2 linked regions of the Homo sapiens genome follow. The gene in region 1 interacts genetically with each later gene. Each region holds a gene or a part of one and is shown on either strand. Other genes may lie near its edges.

Region 1 (4,567 bases):
GAAACCTGTGGCTACGTTATCTTATGTGGCAAAATGAAATTTGCAGATGTGATTAAGGATGATGTGATGGGGGAGATTATCCTGTGGACCCAGTGTAATCATAAGGGTCCTTAAGGGGAGGCATGAGAATCACAGTGATGTAGCATGAGAAAGACTTGACTGGCCAGTGCTAGCTTTAAAGACGGAGGAAGGGAGCTATGAGCCAAAGGATGTGAGCAGCTTGAGCCGGAAAAGGTAAGGAACCAGATTCTACCCCTAGACTATCTGAAAATGAACACAACCCTTCTAACATCTTGATTTGATCCCAGTGAGGCCCATTTCTGATTTCTGCCTTCTGGAACTGTAGATTATAACTTTATGCTGATTTAGGACATCAAGTTTGTGGTAATTTGTCACAGCAGCAACAGGACCCTAATTCAGGTGGGTCAGCCACTATTATTCTATTTACAACCCCCTTCCGTTCTGGCTTTCTTCACAGGGCAATCTAATGTAAACACTTCTGCAGAATTAAAGGGATCTCTTTGCCCACGCACAAACTATTTTTTAGTTTTTCGAGCCTCTACCTACCCTTAGTCTCAAGACAGCTGCCTTTAAGGTAAGCTGCAAGACAATTTATAACATCCTATTCTTAGACTTTCCACTTACACATGGAAAATCATATGCATTATCGGCGTCTGCCACAAAAGCCATGCTCTGAGGTCCTATTCAGGAAAATATTAACTCTGAATTATGGCCTCCCTTTCTTTGGCAGGGGGCACTGAGCTTCACGGAGACCCTAGAGTAGGAATCAACCCTTCAGGTCGAAGGCCCAAGGGAATTAGAGCACTTAGAGCAGGAGACATGGGAAAAGAAAGAGGAAAAGAAGTTGGTAGGTCCGAAGGAGGCTGGAAAGAGGGGAAGGCAAAAGAATACACAACCCAGCCGAATCATGGGAATTGAGAGATGGCTTCCTGCAATCTAGTCTTGCGGGTTCTTGCTCTAGTTTCGGAAACTTCCCCCGCAGAGTCCAGCGCCGCGCACCTGCCCCTTGGGGCCGGTCCCTGCGCAGGAGCCTGCGGCAGGCTGGGAATGCCGTTCTGGGAGAGCAGCCTCCCAGGCGGGGTGGTGGGGAGACTGCAGGGAGGAGTCTTGGGGAGTGCAAACGGAAAGACTACATCTCCCAGGCCGCCACGCTTTCCAGCTGGAGTCCTAGGGCGCTGACTGCTCCCCAGTTTCCGTAGGGAAGCGCTGGGCTACCGCGGCTATTGTGCGTCGCGCTCTCGCCCTCCTCTTCCCGCTGCAGTGTCTATGGAGCGAGGCTACGTTTCATTGCCGCCCTGGCTTAACCCTTCCGGCGCCTAAAAGGACGGCCGGCCGGCCGGCTCCCTTGCACCAGGAAGAAGTCTTAGCAGCCAGCGGGCCCTGGTCAGGAAACTCTAAGGTACAAGGAAAACAGTTGAGGAAGGAGCCAGAGCGCTCCGGTTTGGTCCTCGGGCTTCGCTGGGGCGGGGCGCAGGCGTTGGCTTTAAGAAAGGGGAGGGGACAGTGCAATCCGGGTTGCCCGCGGAGTTCGGCCAAGGAAGTCTTCCGCTCGCTCCGGAGCGAGGAGCCTGTAGAGAGGCTGTTCCCAGCTCCAGCTCTAACCTCGCCTACACCTTGGGCGGGCCCAAGTGTCACGTTTGCAATTGCTCAGGAAGGATCCGGCCCGTCTCCGGAGGCAAGTCGGGCTGCGGTTTTTGCTGCTTATCTGGGAAGGCGATGCCTAAGGGACATGCTGCTTGCTAGGCAGCACCCTGCCGGGATCCGACTGCGATAGTTAGCTCTCCCTGGCCCTGAAGCCATCGCCGGGGCGCCTGTTCTCTGTCCGGACCAGCCAGCGCTCCTCAGGAGTCTCACTGAAACAGGTACCTGTCCTCCAAAGGGACGGAGGCTATGAGCTTCCTTAAGCGGGTCGCGCGCTCAGTCCGTCCCCTCTACTTCCTCTACTGTGCCATTGATGCTCTCGGTCTTTGTGTCTTTCCCCTTTCCCCCTACTCCCGGCCATCAGAACCATGGGTCATCCCCCGCTGGAGTTCAGCGACTGCTACCTGGACAGCCCCGATTTCCGCGAGAGGCTCAAGTGTTATGAGCAGGAACTGGAGAGGACCAACAAATTCATCAAAGACGTAATCAAAGACGGCAACGCGCTTATCAGCGCTATGAGAAGTAAGTGCAAGGCTTCGATGAGCTGTTTCTCTGAGCTGGTGTGTCTGGCCTTTAAGCCTTTCCACACCACCAGGGGAAGGGAGATTGCAGGGTGACTCCCAGCCCAGATCTCTGAGGCAAATGGGTTTCCCACACTTGGGGAGTGGAGATAGTAGAAGTGGAAAGTGGTGGATACAACCAGAACTTTGGGCCTTTTCCTTTAGTGGTTTTGACCTTATAAGACGTGATCCGTAGCTGTGCCAGGGACCCTCTTGCTCAGCAATTACCCTTACTTGGCAGATGATTGTTCTTAAGGGACAATCTGCTGTACTGTTAGACATATTCAGCACCCCTGTCTGGGGCAAAGTGACATCCAAGCTGACCAAGGAACTGCCCCAGCACCTCCTAAACAATTGGGGATTAAGGTCAGCAGCTTGAATAATAATTTTGTCCTGGTCTCTGGTTGCTACAGATAAGTGTGGGGGGCAGTAAAAAATTCGCCATGGCAAGTTATTTTTTAAGGAAAGCACCTTTGCCCCAGTGAATTATTTTCTTTATCACACTGAGCTATGGTTTAGGTCAAGGTCAGTCTAAGTTCAGGATTATTGGATGGCTTCACCTGCCACTGAATTCTGCTTGAGTGTGGAACAAAGAGCTGACTACTTAGTCCCTGCCACAAGGGGCCCAGCCCCCAGGGAGTAAAATAGGGATAGGGTTGGGGGCTGCTGGGCTGAAGGAACTTCACCTAGCTTCGCTTTTCCAGTGCTCACAGCTGACTCAGCTGTGGGAAGCTCTCTCCTTCCCCCATTGTGTGTGGAGGTTTTTTTTCTGCTTGTTGGTAGGAGGCTTGGAGTAAAAGAAAGAATAATAAACATCCCCAACGAGAGTGCAGGCAAGCCAACCCTTTATGCCAAAGCATATACACAGAAGAATGGAGGGTAATGATTGGGTGGAGTGATAATTAATTTTTTCTCTTGGCTGAAAGATGATTGTGAAAAATAAACTCAGAGTCATTGGCAAGTATGTCCTATATGGTTATAACTTTGTTTTGAGTGAATTTATCACCAAATACAGGGTCTAGGACCAGTGTGGCAACCTTCTTAGGCGGATGCAGTCAACCAAGAGCAGGGAGAAAGAAAGATTTGAAAGTGGTAGTGCGAGGCTGGGCGAGGTGGCTCACGCCTGTAATCCCAGCACTTTGGGAGGCCAAGGCGGGTGAATCACCTGAGATCAGGAGTTCGAGACCAGCCTGGCTAACATGGTGAAACCCTGTCTCTACTAAAAATACAAAAAAAAAAAAAAAATTAGCTGGGCATGGTGGCAGGCACCTGTAATTCCAGCTACTCAGGAGGCTGAGGCAGGAGAATCACTTGAACCCAGGAGATGTTGGTTGCAGTGAGCCGAGACCGTGCCATTGCACTACAGCCTGGGCAACAAGAGTGAAACTCCATCTCAAAAAAAGAAAAGAAAGTGGTAGTGTGTTGGTAACTGCTGCCAGCTGGTATTTCTTGTGCAGCCCTTCTGATTTGCCCTGTGGAGTCGGTGCTTTTCCTTCACATGCTCTCTGCCCACTTTTGGTCAGAATATGTACACTGTCGAAGTTCCTGCAGGTCATTTGATTGTGTTTGATCTTTTAATGATTTGTCTTATTGTGGCCTGACCAAGAGTAAACTCCTAGTAGTATCTGAAATGCTGATCCTTAAGAGGTTAAGGATATGCAGGTTGTGCTACATAAGTAGAAAGGTGAGAGTTCACGGAAAGGAAAAGGAGGAATGTTTCAGCTTTGTTTTGTTTTGTTTATATATTACAGTAAACTGCTTGGTGCTGTGTCCCCAGTAAAACGAATCTCATCATAAGCCCTAGGAACAGAATGGCTTTGTGAAGTGGATGGTAACTAAAAGCATGCTAAAAATCACCAGCTAAGGCATATCAGAGAGATTAAGATTTATAAGAAAAAAAGTAGTTCAATAAAACATGGTGGAAGAGCAAAAGTTTCATAAGCTAGGGGCAAGTAAAGGTTTTTATTCTTTCCTTTTCTTTCTTTTTTTTTCAATTTTTGTTTTTGAGATGAAGTCTTGCTTTGTCGCCCAGGCTGGAGTGCAGTGGCATGATCTCAGCTCACTGCAGCCTGGATCTCCTGGTTTCAAGCGATCCTCCTGCCTCATCCTCCCCAGTACCTAGGACTATAGGCATGTGCCACTGCGCCTGGCTAATTTTTGTATTTTTTGGTAGAGATGGGGTTTCACCACGTTAGCCAGGCTGGTCTTGAACTCCTGACCTCAGGTAATCCACCCACCTTGGCCTCTCAAAGTGCTGGGATTGCAGGGATGAGCCACCACGCCTGGCCTCTTTCCTTCTTTTCTAAGACTCAAAGTGATAAGAGTCAACAGTTAAGCAGATCTAA
Region 2 (3,810 bases), on another chromosome or scaffold:
AATAAGTAATACAGAATGGCCAATGTGGGCTTCACAGGGAGGACAAGGATTTTTTTGGTAAGGGGCTTTTTGGAACCCCTCAAATCAACTGCAGGGCCCTTCCTGGGCATCATGCTACACAAGTAAAAGTCCCTCTACGTTCCAGGATTGTTGGCTCCCTGGGCATCTGGTTGGGGCAAAAAGAAAGATACTGATTTTAAAGTAGAATTATCTTATAAGTAAGAAATTCTAGGCTGGGCACAGTGGCTCACGTCTGTAATCCCAGCACTTTGGGAGGCCAAGACCGGCGGATCACGAGGTCAGGAGATCGAGATCATCCTGGCTAACATGGTGAAACCCCATCTCTACTAAAAATACAAAAAAAATTAGCCGGGCGTGGTGGCGGGCACCTGTAGTCCCAGCTACTCAGGAGGCTGAGGCAGGAGAATGGCGTGAACCTGGGAGGCAGAGCTTGCAGTAAGCCGAGATCGCGCCACTGCACTCCAGCCTGGGTGACAGAGCGAGACTCCATCTCAAAAAAAAAAAAAAAGGGAAATTATAGGCTGGGCACAGTGGCTCACACCTGTAATCCCAGCAATTTGGGAGGCCGAGGCAGGCAGATCACCTGAGGTTGGGGGTTCGAGACCAGCCTGACCAACATGGTCAAACCCCGTCTCTACTAAAAATACAAAAATTAGCCAGGTGTGGTGGTGGGCATCTGTAATCCCAGCTACTCAGGAGGCTGAGGAAGGAGAATTGCTTGAACCCGGGAGGCGGAGATTGCAGTGACCCGAGATCGCGCCATTGCACTCCAGCCTGGGTGACAGAGTGAGACTCCATCTAAAAAAAAAGAAAAGAAAGGAAGAAAGAAATTCCTTGTGACAAAATGTTTAATTTCTGATTATCCTGTTTGTTCTGGGAAAGCAGTCTAATATGATTGTTTAAAGATATAGAATCCAGAGCCAGATAGCCTGGGTTTGAACCCTGGTTTGCTTAGCAGCTGTGTGGCCTTGGACAAGTTACTTACTCTCTGTGCCTCATCAGAAGAATGCGGATGACAACAGATACTTATAGGATTGCTATTCTGATTAAATGAATTGATATATGTAAAGCACATAGAACAGTGCCTAGCCAATACTAAGTAAGGTATAAATGTTTACATAGTTTTTCATATATGCCAAAGTTAAGTTCTTACAAAGTAAAAATTCATGCAGTTTGAACTAATTAAAATTTACTAAACAACTTTTTTTTTTTTAAAATAGGACCAAATAGAAGGAGAAAAAGTACCAAATACTTTGTTCCAAAGTGGTACAAAAGTTCGCTTTCTGCTGAGGCAGGGAGAGGGGTTTTGCTCTGTTGAATACTTGGGAGTCTTGGCTGACTTCCCTTGTGGGTGACACCTTGGCCCTCCTCTGTTCCTATGGGAACTCGGGTGACTTTTGAAACTTTAGCTTCCCCCTCCCTTACTGCGTCCCAAAAGGATGCTTACCTTGCTAAACTTCATGAAAGCCCAATCATGCTTTTTCTCTTCTCTCTTTCTTCTCTTTTTTTCCTTTATCTTCTTTCTCATTTTTTTCCCTTTCTTTCCCTGTCTTTAAACAACAGCAACAAAGAGATCACCAAACATGAACAATTTTAAACTGTTTTGTTATGTAATTCTCCTTAGTGTTATGCTAATTCATTGCGATAATGAGTAACTAGCTAGCTCCCCTCTGAGCTCTTAGCTGAAACCATAGATATGGGCTTGTTTACCTTTTGACCTTTTGTTTACCATTTGACCCTTAAAACTGGCTCTAGAACTTTGTTCTCCTCTTGAGCATTCATTTGTAATTTTAAAACTTGTTTAGCCAAATGGTACTTCTTTTCTAATTGCAGCTGTAAAGAAGAAAGTCCAGCTGTTGTTAAAAAGGAGGAAAAAGTGCTTCATGAATTATTTGGGACGGACATAAGGTGCTGTGCCAGAAATGAACTGGGCAGGGAATGCACCAGGCTGTTCACAATAGGTAACACTATAATATCATGCACTTTCATTTTCAGTGACCGGTTCTTAGCAACTATCAGGGACTAACAGTAACTGCGTAGGTGATCATTCAACTTCAGAAATCCTATCATTCCTTCAGGTCACAGTAAATGCAATATTATGGATTCTGTAAATGCTGATTTCTTCATAAAAGAGGAGTCAGTCTCTAAAAGCTTCTTTTATTAATGTGGTTAGTAATATTTGAGATGATGCTAAAGTCTTTGTTCAGAATGTTCAGGATATCTTTTGTGATGAGGCAAAAATCACTTTTTTTTTCTCACTTGGGATGTTTTCATCTCCTAGATCTAAATCAAACTCCTCAGACCACATTGCCACAATTATTTCTTAAAGTAGGGGAACCCTTATGGATAAGGTGCAAAGCTGTTCATGTGAACCATGGATTCGGGCTCACCTGGGAATTAGAAAACAAAGCACTCGAGGAGGTAATAGGACAAGTTTGTATTCTGAAAATGCAGGAACAATTAACTAATAGTCTGGATTGAAAACATTAAATGCAAACTCTGTTTTATTAAAACCTAGGGCAACTACTTTGAGATGAGTACCTATTCAACAAACAGAACTATGATACGGATTCTGTTTGCTTTTGTATCATCAGTGGCAAGAAACGACACCGGATACTACACTTGTTCCTCTTCAAAGCATCCCAGTCAATCAGCTTTGGTTACCATCGTAGGTAATGCAGGCTGCTCACACAATCTTTATTCCTATTTTTAGTCGCTGTAGTGTGGAATGTGAAGTATGTGGTACAAATTCTGATTTCAATATAATGCTACTATCAAACACTAAGAAAGAAACTGAGTTAGAATAGCTTTGCAAAGATAATCTGCCCACCCTCTTCCTTTTCCCGTTAAACCAGGCTCGCTTGAATGCCACTGTCTTTGCATATAACACATTGTAATATGACCATCTGTTTGTGTACTTTTATCCTCCAGTAGACTGTAAGTTTCTTAAGGACAAGAACAACTCATTCTATCCTTGTAGTTCCAGAACCTGACACAGAGCCTGACACAAAATGGACAATAAATACTAGTTCTAAGAACCAACTAACCGCACTGTTAGGGCAGTGAGCACTGAGAGACAGTACAAGCCCTTAGATGCACTGAAATTTTGGTGGGGTATGTAGGATCTGAAAATAACCACAGTTCAATAATCTCAGATTAGGGCACAGCGTTCAGCCATAATGAAAATGCCGAGAAATACAGCGATGCTCTTAGCAGATTAATAAGGAAGTGTTCCATAAGGCAACCTCGTGAATATTGCTAGCCAGATCGCTCTTTTATTTGTGCCTTGAGTTTATTTTACTCTCTCTCATCAATGGAAGAGTGGTGCTGGCTGAGAGCAGGGGCCAGACAGTCAATTATCTACATCCCATTCTTTTTCTTTCCTTCTTTCTTTTTTTAAACATTTCTTAACTTCGAAAGATGATGAGCTCAGGCTTAGAACTAGGGATAGGACTCCTGGGTTTTCACTTGGATTATCCAACCTGACCTGCAGCATGCCAACACTTGAGTTTTCCTGTGTTAAACTGATGAATACAAGTTTATTTTATCTTCTCAATACGTTTCCCTATGAATATTATTAACTAACTCATAAATGCCTATTTTTTCTTACAGAAAAGGGATTTATAAATGCTACCAATTCAAGTGAAGATTATGAAATTGACCAATATGAAGAGTTTTGTTTTTCTGTCAGGTTTAAAGCCTACCCACAAATCAGATGTACGTGGACCTTCTCTCGAAAATCATTTCCTTGTGAGCAAAAGGGTCTTGATAACGGATACAGGTGAGACC

The links.
Region 2: changes in OPHN1 (region 1) and FLT3 together harm fitness less than expected from each alone (positive genetic interaction), as found in Homo sapiens cells (one study listed by BioGRID).

The regions. Positions count from the first base shown.
Region 1 is NC_000023.11:68,430,484-68,435,050, reverse strand, and holds the start of OPHN1 (oligophrenin-1), read left to right. Parts: upstream 1-1,555; 5' UTR 1,556-1,883; intron 1,884-2,026; 5' UTR 2,027-2,030; coding exon 2,031-2,184; intron 2,185-4,567. UniProt on the Homo sapiens protein: Stimulates GTP hydrolysis of members of the Rho family. Its action on RHOA activity and signaling is implicated in growth and stabilization of dendritic spines, and therefore in synaptic function.
Region 2 is NC_000013.11:28,048,267-28,052,076, reverse strand, and holds part of FLT3 (receptor-type tyrosine-protein kinase FLT3 precursor), read left to right. Parts: intron 1-1,854; coding exon 1,855-1,982; intron 1,983-2,302; coding exon 2,303-2,442; intron 2,443-2,539; coding exon 2,540-2,693; intron 2,694-3,633; coding exon 3,634-3,802; intron 3,803-3,810. UniProt on the Homo sapiens protein: Tyrosine-protein kinase that acts as a cell-surface receptor for the cytokine FLT3LG and regulates differentiation, proliferation and survival of hematopoietic progenitor cells and of dendritic cells.